Linked DNA regions of Homo sapiens: region 2 is linked to region 1. Evidence: fine-mapped expression QTL. Tissue or cell type: nasal epithelium. Region 1 holds a variant in brackets; the other region holds the start of a gene. All regions are shown on one strand. Distances are from middle to middle.

Region 1 (9,639 bases):
TTGACGGGGTGAAGGGAGTAAAGCTGAGGGCATGGAGAAGTGGAAGGGGTGTGGAGAGGAGCGATTACAAAGACAAAATTCAGCTAAGTTAATGGAGCCAGGTCCTTTCCTAAAGCCACATCTTCCCTCCCCAACTCTGCCCCAATCAAGACTAGACTACATACTGCAGGCATCCTACTCAAGAGAAAAGAGCCTGGATTTTCAAGCCACCATAAACTCAGAGCAACTCCCAGTCCTACCATTTACCAGTTGACTAAGTTCATTGACCCTTCTGAACCATGGATTCCTCTTCTATAAAAACAAAACAGAAACAAAAACTCTCAAAACAAAGTTGTGAGGATTCAGTAAGATAAGGCAGGTGATAGGCCAGCTAAGTGCCCAGCTTCTAGGAGGTGCTCAGATCGCTTAGTTTTTCAGCCAGCTTTCTGACCTCACACTAAGTCCACAGCCTCTTGCGCTTTTTCCTATCTAGTTTTTACATGTAATTTATTACATTCAATTCAATTCAACAGAGATTTTATAGAATGCCAAGCACTAAACTCTGGGGATACCAGAGGATCAGGTCCCCTTGCTCCCCATGGCCCCCCAAAACTTGTAGCCTATATAGGAGACTAAAGATTAAATATGCAGTTACAAATGAACAATGAACATTCCAATAAGGGAAATACAGGAGCTGTCAGAACACAGCTCTCACATTACACAATAGATGTAAAATGAGCTCTATGTCATTTATGCTAAATGTCAAGACACAGGAATTAAGCACTTCCACAATAAAAATCTAGGTGGATACCTCAGTAGAGCAGATTTTTATGTTGGTGGTAGTTTCCAAAGTTAGCACATAACTGAAAGCAGTCACTTGAAAAAAAATCCCTTAAATTATCCATAAAATAGTGTATACATGGTTTTCGTGTACAAGTATGCATTGCTGTGTGTATGTAAATACGTAATAATCTACACAACAGATAATTGACAAAGAATAAATATGCAAAATATAAGTTTACAGATTTTACTACACAGAAGAAACCAAAAGTGAAATTAGAAAAAGTTTGCAAAATCAATGTTCTAAAAACTTCCAGTGGAAATGCATGTTTTGTTTTGATAACAAATTCTAAAGGGCCAGGACACAGCTGCAAGGCCAAGCACATTCACACTCTTCAACCACCCTGGGCTTTTTAAAAGTGTGAATAAAGGCAGTAGCTTCAGAAAATCATTCTTTGGTTCTCTTAGTTGTTAGACTTCTGTAGGAGCCTGTCAATCTTACAGAGTATTAATAGAAAGAAAATTACCACCCCACCCCACCCCCCCCCCCCGCAAAAAAAACCTTATTGCCTTTTATTTTTGGACAGGTTATGGAATCACAAAATCTCAAGGTTGTAAGGGAACCGAAAGAGCACTGGTCCAACCTGTCATCATATGTTTCAATCCCTCCCAAGGGATCAAACAGTCTCTACTTAGATATTTCCAGTAGCTAGAAACTACCCCTTCCATCTTAGAACACCTCCAGCAGTAATTTAAATGCACAATTGCTTCAAAAATTTAATACATCAAAATTATGTGTTGCAGGAAGATCTTCCTGGCAGGGATTCACTTTAAAAGTATTATGAAGAATTTACTCTGCAATATTCTTAGTGTATAAAAGGGTCATACAGACTAATAAGAAAATCGCTAAGATCTCAATAGATAAGAAAAAATGTAAATCATCACATTTGTATTTAAAAGTTCAGTCAGCTGGGCGCAGTGGCTCACTCCTGTAATCTCAGCACTTTGGGAGGCCGAGGTGGGCGGATCACCTGAGGTCGCGAGTTTGAGACCAGCCTGACCAACATGGAGAAACCCCATCTCTACTGAAAATACAAAATTAGCTGAGTGTGGTGGTGTGTGCCTGTAATCCCAGCTATTTGGGAGGCTGAGGCAGGAGAATCACTTGAACCCAGGGGGCAGAGATTGTGGTGAGCCGAGATTGTACCATCGCACTCCAGCCTGGGCAACGAGAGTAGAACTCTGTCTCAAAAAAGAAAAGGTCAGTCTACCTAATTTAATAGGCAAAAAATTATCCCACATTTTAATCCATTAAATAACAAAGGTCAAGACACATTGCACCAAAAAAGCAGTGAGATATAAACTGATGGTAGAACTGTAGATTGCTACAACTTTTATGTATTTCATTTTGGCAATATTCATTTGTCAAAGAATAAGCCTAGAGGTTTGTTGTCGTTGTTGTTGTTTCATCACAGCTGAGTCTACTAATTTACCAGGCAAGGGAACACAAACCAAAACAGAAATTTGCAATGTATCCCTGTTAGGGAAATGTCAGGGGTTGCTTTTTAAGTGCTGGAGAGAAGTGCCTGATGATTATTCTAGTTAAGCATTGACAACTAGCATTCTAGACAGTCAGTCATTTAAACAAGTGTCACTGTCTGTGGTCAGGAAAGAGTTTTCAATCAGGTCCTGTGTGTGGGTGGGGCCCGGGGGGGTTCCTTAAAGTTAATGGTCAGCTTTAGCAGGTTAGAACCAGCTGGGATAAAACACAGTCTTTAGTTTTGATATTCCTAAGCAAGAAGGGAAATTTCTTCCTTGTTTTCTTCACTCATTCAACAATGCACATTAAGGCTGGGCACGGTGGTTCACACCTGTAATCCCAGCACTTTGGGAGGCCCAGGCGGGCAGATCACTTCAGATCAGGAGTTTGTGACCAGCCTGGCCAACATGGTGAAATCCCATCTCTACTAAAAATACAAAAAACATTGGCCAGGCATGGTTGTACGAGCCTGTAATCCCAGCTACTCGGGAGGCTGAGGCAGGAAAATCTCTTGAACGCAGGAAGCGGAGGTTGAAGTGAGCTGAGATCTCGCCACTGCACTCCAGCCTGGGCAACAGGGTGAGACTCCGTCTCAAAAAACAAACAAACAAACAAACAAAACATGCACACTAAGAACCATCTCCATGCTGGACACTGGTAATACAGCAGTAAAGCAGGCAGAGATAGTTCCTGTCTTCATGGAAATTGCCACCAAGTAATGTGATCTTGTCATGAAAATGTTTATATTATTAAACCTAAAAATTTCACTTTAGGAAGCTTATGTTAAGGAGATAATAAGCTGGTCAAATATTTATACACAAATATATTCATTGGAGTATTGCTTAAGCCAAAAAACAGAGACAACCTAAATTTCCAACAGTAAGGGAATTGCTTAAAAAATACATAATACATTCATAAATTGACTATAAAAGGTTTAATGACATGGGAAATGTGTACGATATAATATTAAGCAAGGCAAATAATATTTTCAAGACATAGAATGTGGCCTCAATTATATTAGACATTATATAAAATAAACTTTTAAAATACTTGGTTGCTGATCATGGTGGCTCACATCTGTAATCCCAGCTCTTTGGGAGGCCAAGGCAGGCAGATTGCTGGAGTCCAGGAGTTTGAGACTGGCTGGCTAACGTGGTGAAACCCTGTCTCTACAAAAAATACAAAAATGAGCTGGGCATGGTGATATGCACCTGTAGTCCCAGCTACAGGTCTGGCTAACATGGAGACACCCTGTCTCTACAAAAAATACAAAAGTTAGCTGAGCATGATGATATGCACCTGTAGTCCCAGCTACTCTGGAGGCTGAGGTGAGAGGATGACTTGAGCCCAGGAGGTCAAGGCTACAGTGAGCTGTAATCACACCACTGCATTCCAGCCTGGGCAACAAAGCAAGACCCTGTCTCAAAAATAAAATAAAATAAAACAAAATGAAATACTTCGAAAGAAATATACCTCAAATGCTAACATTTTATTGGTGTATGAATGTTGTATTACGGGATTTTTTTTTTCTTCTTTATATTTTAGTGTATTCACTTTTATGAGAGTTTGTATTAATTTTATAATCTAGAAAGAATTTGGCAAACATCCCCTCTGAAAAAAAAAATCAGAACAAAAACTACCCCCAAATAGGGAAAACTCTACAAATGGCTTAACTGTGTATACAGTCAAGATCCTATAACCTAGGTCTCTGTATCTAAAGGCAGAATTTACGTGTGAATTAATCTCATTTTTGTTTCTGCTGACTCCATAGAAACTGTGCTCTCCATGGCTTCCTCAAGATGAGCAAACAAGAGTGATACAGATTTTTCTGAGATGGACAGTGCCTCTCACTGACCCCGCCCCCAGTATCCTACGACCAAGGAAAAGAATCTCATGTGTCATTTCTGTGGGCCACGGTAGTTAAGGAAACTCCATGTATTTTCATCTGGAGCCTCACAGCAACCCTGACAAGTGGCTAAGTGGGGACAATGTGAAGCTCGGCTGCCCTTCCCCAAGGCCCTGGTCTTGACAGTCCTCAGGGGCTGGAGGCCCCCCTCATCCATGTCCCCACAAGATTTCTGTCCATGGCACCCAAGGACCCACTCAAATGGTCTTGAATGGACCTGAGGAAGACTGGCGAGTTATTGGTTTTATAAGCACAGTTGTGTCCGTTTACATCTACCAGAAGGTACAGGGATATGGCGAGAGTGAGAAGACGTGACACCTGTTAATACAAACTCTCCCCTTTAACTTGTCTTTCCAGAGAACACAGAATGGGAGACACCGCTAAAACAGGCCACGTTAGCACTAGAACTGATAAACTGAGAGCTAGGTTCTAGATAGAAAAGTTACGATGAAACATCCTCATCATTGTCAACAGATGAATATCTAAACCTCAGCTTTGATGTCCTCTGCCAAATGGATTGGATGATGCCTGCCCTTGCCACTCCACGGGGTCTTTGGGGATGAACTGAGCTACAATGGCGAGGGAGCGGGTGGGATACTAACTGGCCCTTCCCCTAGATAGGAGGCCATCAAGTGCAGAGCCAGAGACCGGCCCTGGGCCTCCGCAGGCTCCCCCGGAGCCAAAGAGAGGCCAAACCGAAGCGCCCTGCCCAAGGCCGCCCTAACGCGACTCTGGCCGCTCCTGCCTAGCAGATACCGGCTGGTGCCCTCGCTTCGGATGCAAGATCCCAGCTCTGCTGCAGCTTTCGAGCCGGAGGGACAATCGAAATGATCAAAAATG[C/T]CCGGCGGGCAGCCTTGGCGAGCGCGCGGCGGGGCGCGGGGTGAAGTCTCGCCAGGGCGCGCCGCGGCGGACACCGAGCCACACGCACTGTGCCTGCGCCCGCGGCCGCCCCGAAGGTAGTCGGTAACTGCGGCGGGCGGCGGCCGGGGCTGGACAGCCAGCCCCGCCCGGCAGGCTCGCAGCTCACGTAGCGCTAGCGTGAGTCAGCGCGTTCCAGCGCAGCCCCGGGCCGAGGGAGGGCTCCCGCGCGCAGCGCCAGCAGCCCGCACGTACCGGCCCCGGGAGGGGGCGCCTAGGTGGTTCCACTCGCGGGTGCCCTGTGCCCTGCAGTGTCCCCACGCCCCAGGTTGTCCCCCTCGAAAGCCACGTGGGCGTGGGGCTCGCCTTCCCTGGGCGGAGTCCCCATCGGTGCCTGCCCGCCCGGAAGTAGGGGCGCGAGGGTGACGGGCAAGACCGAGCCCGGCCCGTGATTCTTCCTCAGCCGGAGCTCGACCTTCTCCTTGTCCCTTGCGTTTCCTTTCTTTGAACCACACACTCGCTCGCTCACGTTTGTCCCGACTAAGTTGCCCCCGGCCCCCGCAGCTGTCATGAAGATAGATGGAGAGGTAGCTGCGAGAGCCCAGCCTCGGCGGGTGGTGCCCAGGGCGGACTGGGGAGACTAAAGACAGTAAAGGGCGGGTGGGACTCGAGTCCTCTATCCACCTAATCTCACATGCAGTGGGACTTATCATTCCAGTCGGTCTGCATTTCCTCAAATCTGCACCTGTTTAGTTACGACAACCAGCTTTATAAAAGGAAGCGGCCTACGTGCCTGACAGCTGAATGACGGAATTAGAAGTCATTCTCTACTAAATGTGTGAACATAGCAGGACCTCCGCTTAAGTTCTAGACCTACAGGGTTGCAAGTCTGGGCCTCCTGGGGGCAGGAAAAAATTCCAAGTCCTCCTTTGCCCCTCGGTAAAATGTTCTTTCACAAATTAGAGCCAACGGCACATCTGTGATGTGCCTATGTCACTTTTTCAAAGCCTTGCTCAGGGGTTGGAATGTCGTGGAGAGGGAGACGAGGTGGGTGCTTATGAAGGGAAAGAGATACATGGGGAAGGGGGAGAGGAAACGTTGATTAGGAAAGGAGCTTGCAGTCATGAGTAAAGTGACTGACAGAACGTTATTGAGCCTGTCATGGAGATCAGGCACTATTTGGGCACCAGTGACGCAAAATAAGTGGCTCCCCGTGGTCCCTGCTCTCAGGGTTACAGATGAGTGGGAGATATTAACTAAGTAGACAGTGAAACATGAGGAAGACTTAGTATGACGGTTCAGCACCCAGACTTGGGAACCAGGCTGTGCAGGTTCTGATGCTGGCTCTGCAATTTACAGACCGTGTGATCTTAGCCAAGTGAGTACCCCCATCTGTCCTCACCTTCTTGTTTTGGAAAATAAAAATGGTGAAAACGACTTACTTTTTAGGACATTTCAGAGGTCTAAATACATTAATACAAGCAGAGCACTGGAATTCAGTAGGCACCGAATAAATCTTGTTAATAGAATAAATGGAGGAGATACAGGCAGGGGCTGCCAAGCACAGCAGAGCAGGCTGTATGCTGTACAACTCCAGAAGACACGTTCGTAGAAGTGAATGGAGCTTTCTGGAACTGTGCAGTGTGGTGGTCCTGAGTATGAGTGATGTCTATTTTAGCATAGTTCATAATAGGAAAAAATGGAAAATTCAAATGCACTTATCTATAAATGTGGTATGTTCATACAGTGGAGTACTATTAGAGCTATTAAAAGGGATCAGCTGCATCTATGTGTATCAAAATCTCAAAAGTATATTGAATGAAAAACAGCAAGTTGCAAAATGATACATGCAGCATGATGCCATTTATAGAAAGAAAATGTACATACACACAAAAAATCCCATATATATATATATATATATATATATATATATATATATATATATATGCTGGAAAAATACACACCAAACTTAAAGCTGTCTTTGAATGGAAGGGGAGGAATTCAGATTTGAAATGGTAGTCATAGGAATTTAGCTTATTCTCATATTGTAATAATTGTTTCAAAGAACAATGTGCTTATATATCATGCAGTTTTTTATTTTAAGGAATAGATATAAAATAAAACTAGAAGCAAATATGTCAACACTGGCTAACTGTGGGTTGCTGGAATATGAGTAATCATTATTTTTTCATTTGTACTTTTCTGAATATTCAAATTAAAAATAATTACAACCTTGCAGGTCAAGTGCTATGCTAAAGGTGTAAAAGGGATGGGCCTGGAGAGCATGTCTCGGGTGAGGCTACGCTTGTACACCCACAATCTTCGGTCACAACAGAGAATGGAGCAAGCTCCCCAAGACCCCTCTGCTCTAACCCCACCCTGGGGCGGGCTGGGTGCCTCTGGAATGCCATGGCTGGCCAGGGTTTCCAGACCAGGGCTGTCCTGAGCATGATGCTGCTGGCGACCATGCTTTGCAGGTTCTTCTTTCAATCCTTACCCTCCCTAAAATATGGCGTTCTGGTTGGTGCCTGAGGGGGAAACACCAGATGATAGTAGAACCCTTGAGGACAGGGAACCATCCATGCTCTACAAGTGGGTCACCTACAATTCTGAAAATTAACTGAGTCATTGAATTCAACGCAGCAAGTAAATGGTAAAGGTGGAAATGGAAACCATATCCACCTTATATCTATGAATGTCTACTATTCTCTGCCTCTGTGCAGGACCCTTTCACAGGTGTTGTCCTCTTTTGGAGCAGCTCAATGAATTGGTCAAGATTCCAGGCTTTGTAGTTGCTCAGACCTAGGCTCGAGTAGCCAATGACTACAATTTAGGGCAAATCACTCAGTTTCTCTGACTCTGTTTCCTCTTCTGTGAAATGGGGATAACAGTGGTGCTGGGGGAACGGAATAGATAATATATGCAAAGCACTTAGTACAGTGGCCTCCCCAGGGATCCCCCAGTAAATGGTGGTTAGGTGTCCATCAGGAAGTGGGATCTTTTGATAACAGATGGATCCTGTTTTAAAAAGGAGATTTTTTTTTTCTTATCCTATAACTATCCTTTACCCTAGTAAAGGGTTAAATCGCTGTGTAGGAAAAGAATGAAAGCCTGTGTCTCTCAGTGAGGTGGGACTGAGCTTGAAATTGACATTCTACAAGAGTTTGACTAGGAACTGTTGTTTGGAGAAGCCCACCCTGCCCCACTTAAAAAAAACCAGTGGTGTTTTTGTTTCTTAATAGCTAAATCTACCCACTGAAAGCCCCAAACAGGATTCTCTTACATTTAAAAAATTAGCCTGACACACCAGTGCCTTCTGAAAGAAGCCGTCCGAGCTTTTAAGTCAAACACACTAAGAATTCCTTCTTTCTCTCTTGTTTGCTTTCTCTCCCTGGCACCCATAGACAAAAGATGTCTCAGGGATTTTTAACTCAGTTATGCTGAAAATCCAAGATTTAAACCTGATTCCCAGCTGCTCCTTTAGAACGTGTTGCACGAGAGATGTTGTTTAGTCCAACTAGCTGTGGGGAGGGGTAAACACACACTGCTGGATGGTGGGACGTGCAGAACGTCAGGGGAACATAACCAAACAGAGTTAAGCATGTGCTGTGACTAATAGAGGACAGCCTGGGGTGTGTCTGTCGTGAGAGAAATCACCTCCCCACTGGGCCCCAGTACCTGAGAGAGGCCAGGAAAATAGCATCTGATTCCCAGGCAGTGTTTATCCTGCCAGGCTGCATGTGGCTTCAGTTATCACAGCCATGCTCTTCTGAGTTGCCTCCTGTATTGGTTCTGGAAGGGGTGCTGCCACAGAGGGTCTATGCAATCTCTCCGGGTGAGCCCCATATCAAGGAAGCCAGGAGCCTACCGCAGAGCAGGACAGAACACTCCCACATCCCTGGCCCTGGCCTGAGCAGAGATGTCCAGACACTTCCCCAGGCACCTGCAACCCAACACTCCTCCCTGTCCTTTCAACACGGTTTGGCTGGGAGTATAGGGAGGCTCCCAGCAAAGTCACCATGACTGGCACGAGTAACCTTACCTGCATGTTCCAGGACAGCACTAACCCCTTCAACAAATGCAGTTTGTTGTATTTTTCAAAGGAGAACAAATTTTACTGGTGGTGGAGATTGCATTTTTCATGTGCGTTTTTGCTGGTATAGAAATAATACATATAGGTTGCAAAAAGAAACTTGGATGAAATAGAAATATACGAAGAAGGAAGTATCATCACTCCTGTACAGCGTTGAATAGTGCTCCCCCATGATTTATGTCCATCCAGAACCTGTGAAAGTAACCTGTGAATGGAAATAGGATTATTGCAGATGTATCAAATTAACATGAACCCTGAATCCAGTATTACTGGCGTTCTTACGAGAAGAGGAAAATTTGGACACAGGCACACAGGCAGAATGCCAGGTGATGACAGAGGCAAAGAATGGAATACTGCAGCTACAAACCAAGGAGCACCAGGGATTGCCGCAAACCACCAAAAGCTAGGAAGAAGCAAGGAAGGATCCTCCCCTGGAGGCTTCAGAGGGAATATGACCCTGCCAACACCTTGATTTCAGACTTC
Region 2 (9,639 bases), 110 kb before region 1:
TGCACAGCATCCCACACAGGCTGAACACTCCATAACATTTGCTGAATAAATGAAAGGTCGGAAGTAGGAGAGAATAAAAGGAAATAACACAGTCTCTGGAGTTACACAAATCTAGGTTAGGATCCCAAATTTCCCCTCTGGAGACTTAAAACACTGATGAAGGCTCGGAATTCTGCTAAACATTTCATAAACATCATCTTATTTAATGCTTCTTCCTCCAACAGCTTTACGGCATTATTTCCTTTCATTTTGCACCTGGTGTAAACCAAGCAACTTGCCTAAAGCCACGAAGTTAGTTAACACTGAGCCTGAGCTCCCAGCCCCCATTTAAACTGTTTCTTACCACTGACTTTGAAACTTTGGGCACAGTATTTAATCACTCAATATGTTTAAGACTGTGTTTCTGAAGATTAAGCAAGATAGTATTTGTAAAGTGCATAGCACAGTGCCAGACAATACAAACTGCTCAATAAAAGGTAGTTCTTCTTATTAGAGTCACTAACTAGTGAGTCTACAGTGAGCTGTTTGAAGCAGAGGGACTTTTGGTTCTAAAAATTATACATTCTCTGGAAAACAGCCATTTTCAAGATCTAGGCAGCCAAAGAAAAAGGAGCAAATTATGACCAATATTTATCTTGGATATGGTCTAAAATCTCCAAAAGGGAGTAGCGAGCGGATAAATCCTTTGCTAGCCTGAAAGCAATGATCATGCTTGAAGTTAGGGGGGGCCATACAGCTGTACATTACAGGAACCACTTCCCAAGGGGTCTTCAACACCCTTGGATTTTTCTCCAGCAAAGATGAGGTAGACAAATTCTGACCATTAACAACTTTCTTGGCAGGAAGCAGAACCATCTAATATTTCTTTCTATATTCTTCCACAATTTCAATTTTAGGTCCAGTGTATCTTTCTGTTTTACTCCCAATATCTTTGCTATTGTTTCATTGAGATAAAGGGCAATATTATTCAATGATCTTTCCAAGTCTAGCAAAGAACAAAAAAAGAAATGAAATTTGGGTAAGTGCATGAATAAGCATAACCTCAAGAAATTTAAAGTAGCTAAAAAAAATTGGTCTAAAACAAATGTACATATTGGCAATTGTTGAAATTGGGTGATGGGAGCTCATTATATTAGCCTCTTATGTTTATGTATGTTTGAAAATTTCCTTAATTAAAACTTAAAAATAAATTTAAGGGCCGGGCACAGTGGCTCAAGCCTGTAATCCCAGAACTTTGGGAGGCCGAGGCGGGTGGATCATGAGGTCAAGAGATCGAGACCAGCCCGGCCAACATGGTGAAACCCCGTCTCTACTAAAAATACAAAAATTAGCTGGGCAGGGTGGCGTGCCTGTGGTCCCAGCTATGCAGCAGGCTGAGGCAGGAGAATCACTTGAACCCAGGAGGCAGAGATTGCAGTGAGCCGCTACAGCCTGGCGACAGAGCAAGACTCCATCTCAAAAAAATAATAATAATAAATAAATTTAAAACTTTAGTTTTTCTTGAAAACACGGGTGAAGGATGAACCGGTAAACTGGGTCTCTATCACTGCTCTGGAAAGCAGCACAAAATGAGGAGCTCAGCTGAGGGATAAAAAGTGAGTGAAGAAAAAGAAGGATAAATTAATGTGAAACCAATAAAAATCATGTAGAAATGGAAAGTGTTTCTACCATGACTTTAATAATGAACTTCAAACAAGAAACCCAAGACCACAAGACATCACTAAGGAGACTTCTGTATACAAGCAAAGCACACTTAAAAAAAATTTAACTACACTAGTTGTTTGCTCAAGCCTGGTTTGCATTTGGTTCTAATTGGCCAGGGAATATTCCAATCGAAAGGTGATTTATCTAAAGGGCAGGGAGCTTTGTGACAAACCAGCCAAAGTAAACCTGGAAATCTGGGGGTGGGACAGGATAAATTTTATTTTCAATTCACGATCACCTTCTGACAGGGTCACCTGGAAAGTTTTTCATTCCACCCAAAAGATAACCTAAAATTGATGAATCATATCTACAGGATCTTTCTTTCCCTTACCCTAACTTACACAGTGTTTTTCCTTCCATTTGAGTTAAATTCTAGTCTGAAACCCTATCCCTATCCATTAAGTCAAAGCTAAATAAAAATATTTAACTTTCAATGTTAGTGGCCTCTTTCCATACCAATTAATCCTGACCTCCCTCAGAGCAAATTCTGCTCCTAGAATGATGAAGAAAAACTCCTAACACCTAAATTTACAAGAAACATTTAAAAACCCAATAAGAAGCCGTCTGCTCTTCCAGGTAGAAACTACCAGCATCTCAGCAACACTGAGGCTGACCCTTCCCCTCCCCGACACACCTCCACCACAGAAGACAGCAAGGTCATTTAATGCAAAAATCAAACTAGTCAAAGACGAGTGACTAATCCACCACCAACATGATGGAAGAAGAATAAAGAAACACTTTAGCATCAATCTCCTACAGAGTTCAGCTCACGCGGAATTTTTTTCCCCAAAGTAAAATTTAGAAAGCAGTATCTTCTAAGATTTACTTTACTTGGGTGCATTAATAACGATGCTTTCAGATATTCTATTCATGGCCTCTTGGCTTGGAAGTTGTACGGCAAACTGTGACTCCCCACTGCACTCATCCACCTCCACCCCTTCACTCCCACACGTTTCCAATCCTCACCACTTAGCCTTTATTCAGAGTGTTCCTCTCAGCGTATTAGAGAAATGAGAGAACAATGGTCTGTTCTGAGACAGGATCAGTCTTGAGACTGATTTGAGAAATACTATATTTATTGTCAAAGAGTGGTACATAGGTGAGTGTTCATCTTCCCTCTCATGCCGGTATACTCTGCTTCGCTGTTTCAGTAAAAGTTTTCCGTAGTTCTGAACGTCCCTTGACCACACCATAAGACAAGCGCAAGTCACTCAGAATTGCCACTGGAAAACTGGCTCAACTATCATTTGAGGAAAGACTGAGAAAGCCTATCCCAAAGTAATGGACATGCACCAACATCGCGGTACCTACATGTTCCCGTTTTTCTGCCAATCTACCTGTGTTTCCAAGATAAATTACCACCCAGGGAGTCACTTCCTGCTATGTGAACAAAAACCCGGTTTCTTTCTGGAGGTGCTTGACTACTCTCTCGTGAGCACTTAACTGGTTGTTTTGAGTGGACTTTGCCATCAATTCATAGTTAGGAAAAGGAAGGTGGTGGTGCAGGGCTCAGCATCAGGAGAGAATTTTCAGTCAAGAAGATGGTCTAACAATGTGCTGGGTCCCAGGGGGCAGAAGCAGCATTCAGAAGTGGAGTTTTACCCTTTCACACCTGCCCAACTCCACAAACCAACTGCCACATGGCAAAATCACAACTGCCTCCAGAATTCTGAGTGCTTTTGTAGAAATCTCTTCTGACCACAATGAAGGGCAGTATTAGGTGGCTTTAAAGTAGGCATTTAAGATCATGAGGACACGTGTGTCTCAGATGATACACAGTGTTTCCAATACCCTTTCCCTCCTTTGGATCTTTGAGAACCTCGTCTTAAAATCGGACCACAGCCACAGCTTGTCTGGCTTTTGTCACCCACAAGAGCCAATATTTCAAAGTCAACAGAAGGTCATCATCATGGTTCACCTGAGCCCCTTAACGTTGACTTTCGCTCAGAGGAGCTGGGGCGAGGGGTGGGGGGAAGCAGCGAGTAGAGACAAACCAGGCTGACTTCTTGGTTAAAAAACAAAGTTCGCTTACGGCCCTGGGAAGTCGACATACAACGGACTCCGAGTGCCTCCCGTCCCCGCGGGAGCAGCTGCGGCAGGGCGCCGAGCGCGTCCTACCTTAGACCTCTCCTTGACGTAGTATTTGCCCAGCCGGCTCCCGCAGTAGAGGACCAGCCTGTCGATGAGGGACAGGAGGAAGCTGATGGCCTCGCAGCCCTCCTCGTTGCCCCCGATCCACGTGATCTGGTCGCCCCGCAGGTGTCGCTTGGAGACGCCGGCGCGCGGCCCCGCCAGCTGGCCGTCCCGCAGGGCCCCGGTGCAGTGCAGCTGCTTGACGCGCTCCAGGACGCAGTCGCCCACCACCTCGCCCAGGAAGTTGTCCAGGTAGCAGAAGCCCACCTCGTGCAGACAGGGCACGATGTACTCCAGGGCAATTTTCTCCAGGTCCAGCCTCATGATGTGTCCCAGGGGCATCTCGCCCGCAGAATCGAGGTCCGGGATCCCCAGCGTGCAACCAGAGAGGGAACGATCTACACGAGCGCGAAGCCGAGGCGCGGGGAGCGTGGCCCGGGGTTCAGAAACCTGCGGCTGCCACGGTACCCGAGCCGCTGCAGCGTCGGGGACAAGGGAAAGTTTCTCGCAACTCTCGGGAGAAGGGATCTGCCTTCGGGAACCAGCGGGAGTGGTGCGGAGCTCCACGACCCGTTTCCGGACTGGCCCGGCGAGCAGTGCGGCGCAAGGAGTCGGAGGGCGCCTTTTGGGGATGGGAAGCCACCACTGCCGCGACTGCGGCCAGACTCCGGGAGACGCTGAGGTCCGGCCCTTAAGCCGGCCGACTCCGCGCGTCACGGGCTCCGCCCCGGGACCGCCTCCGGGACCGCCCTTTCCCCCGCCCCGCTGCCAGTCACCCCCGCCTGCTCTGCCCCTCCGCGAAGGATCCCAGAGAGCCCGGCGCCAACCTTAGTTGTTTGTGACCAGGGGAGCGGCTGGAAAGCAGACTGAATTTTTAGAATGCGCTGGATTTGCATATTGTTTTGCATAAAATCACATAACAAACTTGAAAACCTGGATCCCACACTGAAAATGTAAATAGAATTAACTGCCACATTCTGGGTTGGTCACCTCATAGACTTTTGAGCAAAATAATAACCCCAAAAACGAATATATTTATTAAGCAGTGGTCTTGTTCTACCTTTACCGGGTGTCTTTCCTTATTTACCCCATTCCTCTGCTGTTTGACCCAGTTCAAGCCACTGAGAGATTAGGAGGTATCTAGTTTTAACTAAAATTAATGCATTAACGAATATTTCCCTCAGCCCCTACTGTGTGCAAGGCACTATGTGCTTGAGGAGCTGGGGATGAGCACAATGAAGAAATGCTGAGTCATATCTGATTGAACTCTGCAAATGGTGTATTTTGCTTTGCTTGATGTTTTCCTCTACTTACCTTTCAAGCTTCCTATTAAAATATGATGTTCCGAAATTCTACCTTCCAAATTAATCACATGCTTCTGTAACAGTCAGAGGTATGTCCCCCAAAAGATACACTGTATTCTAGGTCTCTCACTTTTCCCACAAGCAGCTGTACTTTCACAAGAGGGACAGACACCACTGAGAAGACTTTGGTTATCTACAGATAAGCTGATTTGCTTTATGGAGTTTTGATTCCCTTTCCTACTGAACACCAGCGATCAGAATCAGGAAAAAATTCATAAATTGCATGCAAAGCTATTTGTACTTCTTTAAAAAAAAAAAAAAAGGAACTGTATTTTTTTTATTTATTTATTCTGAGACGGAGTTTTGCTCTTGTTGCCTGGGCTGGAGTGCAGTGGTGTGATCTCTGCTCACCACAACCTCCGCATCCCAGGTTCAAGCAATTCTCCTGCCTCAGGCTCCCAAGTAGCTGGGATTACAGGCGCCCGCCACCATGCCTGGCTAATTTTGTATTTTTAGTAGAGGTGAGGTTTCTCCACATTGGTCAGACTGGTCTCGAACTCCCGACCTCAGGTGATCCGCCCGCCTCGCCCTCCCAAAGTGCTCGGATTACAGGCGTGAGCCACCGTGCCCGGCCTATTTGCACCTTTTTTACTTCATATGAGTGCACACTTGGGTTCTTCATTTAAGTTGAAGAAAAGAATGTACAGGTTTTTCGGGTATTGTTTATTGTGGAAGCAAATTTCTACAGCTTTTTCACTTTTCTTCTTCCTCCAGCAGCCCTCTCCTCTCTGCCTCTGAGGGGAGAAAGGGAATGACATCCAGGACAAGAACAAAGAATAGAAGAGGAAAGGTGCTGCTACAAGTTGGAAAGAAGCAGACAGAGGCACGTGGTTGAGTAAGAACCTGGGGGATGGTGAAGGAGAGCAGTCAATGGTGGAGTGCTTAAGAAACTTTGATGAAACTTCTAGTTATATTGAGAGAGGTTCTCTGCCAAGTCAGTGATTAGTTGGCACCTTTGGTATTACCTTTGAGCAGGAGGTACCCCTCCTTGGGGTAAAGGCCATCACTGCTCAAAGAGCTCTTGTCTAAATTCCCAAGGCAGCTCCATGATGAGAGGAGACCATCATCCTTGGAACCCCAGTGTTTAGCACATAGTGAATGGCTAATAAATAGTTACTGGGAACTCAATGTCTGACCCTGAGCCATAGCAGCCTCCACTTGGGATTCAGTATGTCTGGGCTTATCTGGAAGGATCTATTTGCAAAAGGGGCTGGGGAGCCTCCCCAAAGAGAAGTCACTGGAAAAGAGTCAAGCAAATTAGCCTGACCCAGCACAAAAGCTTAGAGGCCAGTGGAGGGAGAACTTAGGAGTTCTACAGGGCATTTGTCTCTCAGCTTTGTCTATCTGAGCAGTGGACATTTGAGTGGTGGGAGCCAGAGACATAAAGTGAAAACTGGAGGACTGTTAAATTGCAGCAAAGGGCCAGGCACAGTGGCTCACACCTGTAATCCCAGCACTTTGGGAGGCCGAGGTGGGCAGATCACCTGAGGTCAGGAGTTTGAGACCAGCCTGGCCAACGTGGTGAAACCCCGCCTCAACTAAAAATACAAAAATTAGCCACACATGGTGGCAGGCATCTGTAATCCCAGCTACTCGGGAGGCTGAGGCAAGAGAATCACTTGAACCCAGCAGGTGGAGGTTGCAGTGAGCTGAGATTATGCCACTGCACTCTTGCCTGGGTGACAAAAGTGAAATTTAGCCTTAAAAAAAAAAAATTGCAGCAAGGAGTGAAATGGAGTGCAGTACCAAAAAGGAGGAAAGCCCTCCTCTCTACTTCTGCTTGAACCCTGCACAGAAGGAACTGCTTTGCCTCCTGCAGTGATCTCCTCCAGGGGCACTATGGATAATGGGGTGACCAGGAGAAACCTGGTCTAAGACAGCCTGAATGTAGACCCTGGTTGGCATTGGGTCGTGCATTTTGCAGCTTTGGGGACTGTGTAAATCTCAGAAGTAGATATCCCTGAAGAGGGACAGAATCAAAAAGGGGGAAGGTGACAGATAATCCTTAGTAACTAGCTGAAATGTTTCTAGCTGGAGGCTTTTTGTAGATACACCTTATTCCTAGGAACGATAAGGAGGGAATTTACAAAGGAATGGAAACCTGCAATCACTGGTAGAGGGGTGGTGGTCAGTAAAATACAGAAAATTATACAACCACCTTCCAGAATGAACATGTTGACCCAAGACTTCAAATCCCAGGAGTGGGTAAATTTAGTTTACTGTTCAAATAATATTTCAATAATTTCACAGTAAAATTGTAACTCGTTATAACTAGAGCAATAGTCTAAGTGAGTCCTAGTGACAACTGTTCTAGATTATGTTGGTTGTAAAGCATGGGCAGTTTAGAAAGGAATTCAATCCCTTGGCACCATCCCTGCTTGGCAAGGGCACTCATTAATCAATCAAGGACCTCCCGATCAGCTTAGGGCTGCCAGCACTGCATTTGGCAGAGGAATCAGAGATACTGTGACTGGCAAAAATCAGAGTGTGTGATTGCACGGAGGAACACAGACAGGCTGGAGCCAGGCACAGGCTGTGGGTCTGAGCATCAGAGAGGGAAAACCCAAGCTAATTGTTAAAGTGCATTTGCTTTAGTTATTTGTCCACTAATTTGTGTCATAATAATGAATATTAAAATACCTTTCCATAATAACTAAAGCAAATTAATTTCCCTGTAATTTAATTACAGCAACATTGTCTTCCAGTGTGCATCTGCAGTATAGATGCAGTCATTTTCAAGCATGTGGAGGAGTAGGGGAGAAAGAAAAATGTTGAGTTTTCTTACCTTTGAATTTGAACTGGAAGAGATATTAGTGGTCACCTAGTTCAACTTCATTTTCCTACAGATGACGAAACCAAAGAGTCTCAGTTGAGTGGAAGAGGAAGCATGGGATGCTTCTGCCTTCTCAACTGTAACACTGTCCTATTTATATATGTATGCATTTTGACTTTAACGAGGTAAAATTCACAAAACATAAAATTTACGATTTTATAATGAACAATTCAGTGGCATTTACTACATTCGCGATGTTATGAAACCACCACCTCTCTCTAGTTCCAAAACATTTTCACCACCCCAAAAGAAAACTGTGCCTATTAAGCAGTTATTCCCCATTGCCTCCTCTCCCAAGCCCCTAGCAACCATCAATCTGCCTTCTCTATGGATTTGCCCATTCTAGATATTTCCTAATAATGGAATCATATAACCTGTGACCTTTTGTGACTGGCTTCTTTCACTTAGCATGATGTTTTGTACCATTTACCAAGATTTTATTTCTTTTTATGGCTGAATGATAATTCCACTACGTAGATATACCACAATTTGTTTATCCAGTCATCCACTGATGAGTATTTGGGTTGTTTCCACTTTTTGGCTATTATAATAGTGCTGTTATTAACATGCATGCATAAGTATGTTGAGTACCTGTTTTCAATTCTTTGGAGAATAGACCTAGGCATACAGTTTTGGGGGCATATGGTAATTTTATAACTCTTTCTTTTTTTTTTTTTTTTTTTTTGAGATGGAGTTTTGCCCTTGTCGCCTAGGCTACAGTGCAATGGCGCAATCTCGGCTCGCTGCAACCTCGACCTCCCGGATTCAAGCGATTCTCCTGCCTCAGCCTCCCAAGTAACTGGGATTACAGGCACCTACCACCACACCCAGCCAATTGTTTGTTTGTTTGTTTGTTTGTTTTGAGACAGAGTTTCGCTCTTGTCACCCAGGCTAGAGTGCAATGGCACCATCTCGGCTCACCGCAACCTCCGCCTCCTGCGTTCAAGCGATTCTTCTGCCTCAGCCTCCCAAGTAGCTGGGATTACAGGTGCCCGCCACCATGCCCACCTAATTTTTGTATTTTTAGTAGAGATGGGGTTTCACCACGTTGGCTAGACTGGTCTCAAACTCCTGACCTCAAGTGATCCACCCGCCTTGGCCTCTCAAAGTGCTGGGATTACAGGCATGAGCTACTGCGCCCGGCCTATGTTTAACTTTTTGGAAAACCACCAAACTGTTTTCCACAATAGGTGTACCATTTTACATTTCCAACAGAAATATGGGAAGGTTCCATCGTGTCCTTTTTTATTTCTGATGAAAAATGTCTACATGTCTTCTTTTCCATCAAAGTACTGCCATACCTGAGGTTCTCTTCCTCCTAGCTGGTATCTGAATATTTTGTGTGTGTGTTTTTACCATCCTATATCATCAGAAGGTTTATCATTATTTTGCATGACTTCACTGTGAGCAAAGGCAACCTTATTTATTGATCCATTAAACATTTTTGCAACACTTAGTACTGTGCTAAAAGTTTACAAACATTACTTCAATTAATTCTTATAACACCACCAGGAAATCGGTACTATTCTTCTTCTCCATTATGAAGATGACAAAAGTGAGAAATAAAGAGGCTAAGGAACTTGCCCAAGGTCACTCTGCAAGAGA

Evidence for each region.
Region 2: EGLN3 starts here. The variant in region 1 is fine-mapped to the expression of EGLN3 in nasal epithelium (TOPMed, PIP above 0.99).

The regions. Positions count from the first base shown.
Region 1 is chr14:34,055,062-34,064,700 of GRCh38, forward strand. EGLN3-AS1 (EGLN3 antisense RNA 1) reads left to right here. Exons shown (of 3, transcript NR_184209.1): 3 at 4,071-7,301. All of the region lies in intron 5 of LOC102724945 (a long non-coding RNA gene), which reads right to left. Among named protein-coding and RNA genes, the nearest start is that of EGLN3-AS1, 20 kb to the left of the region's middle. RefSeq lists enhancers at 223-272, 4,756-5,257 and a silencer at 5,156-5,515. The variant C/T (reference allele first, on the strand shown) is at 5,046.
Region 2 is chr14:33,946,574-33,956,212 of GRCh38, forward strand. It overlaps EGLN3 (egl-9 family hypoxia inducible factor 3), which reads right to left and starts at 4,501. Exons shown (of 5, transcript NM_022073.4): 1 at 3,823-4,501. The coding sequence starts at 4,179. RefSeq lists an enhancer at 4,269-4,438 and a silencer at 4,559-4,638.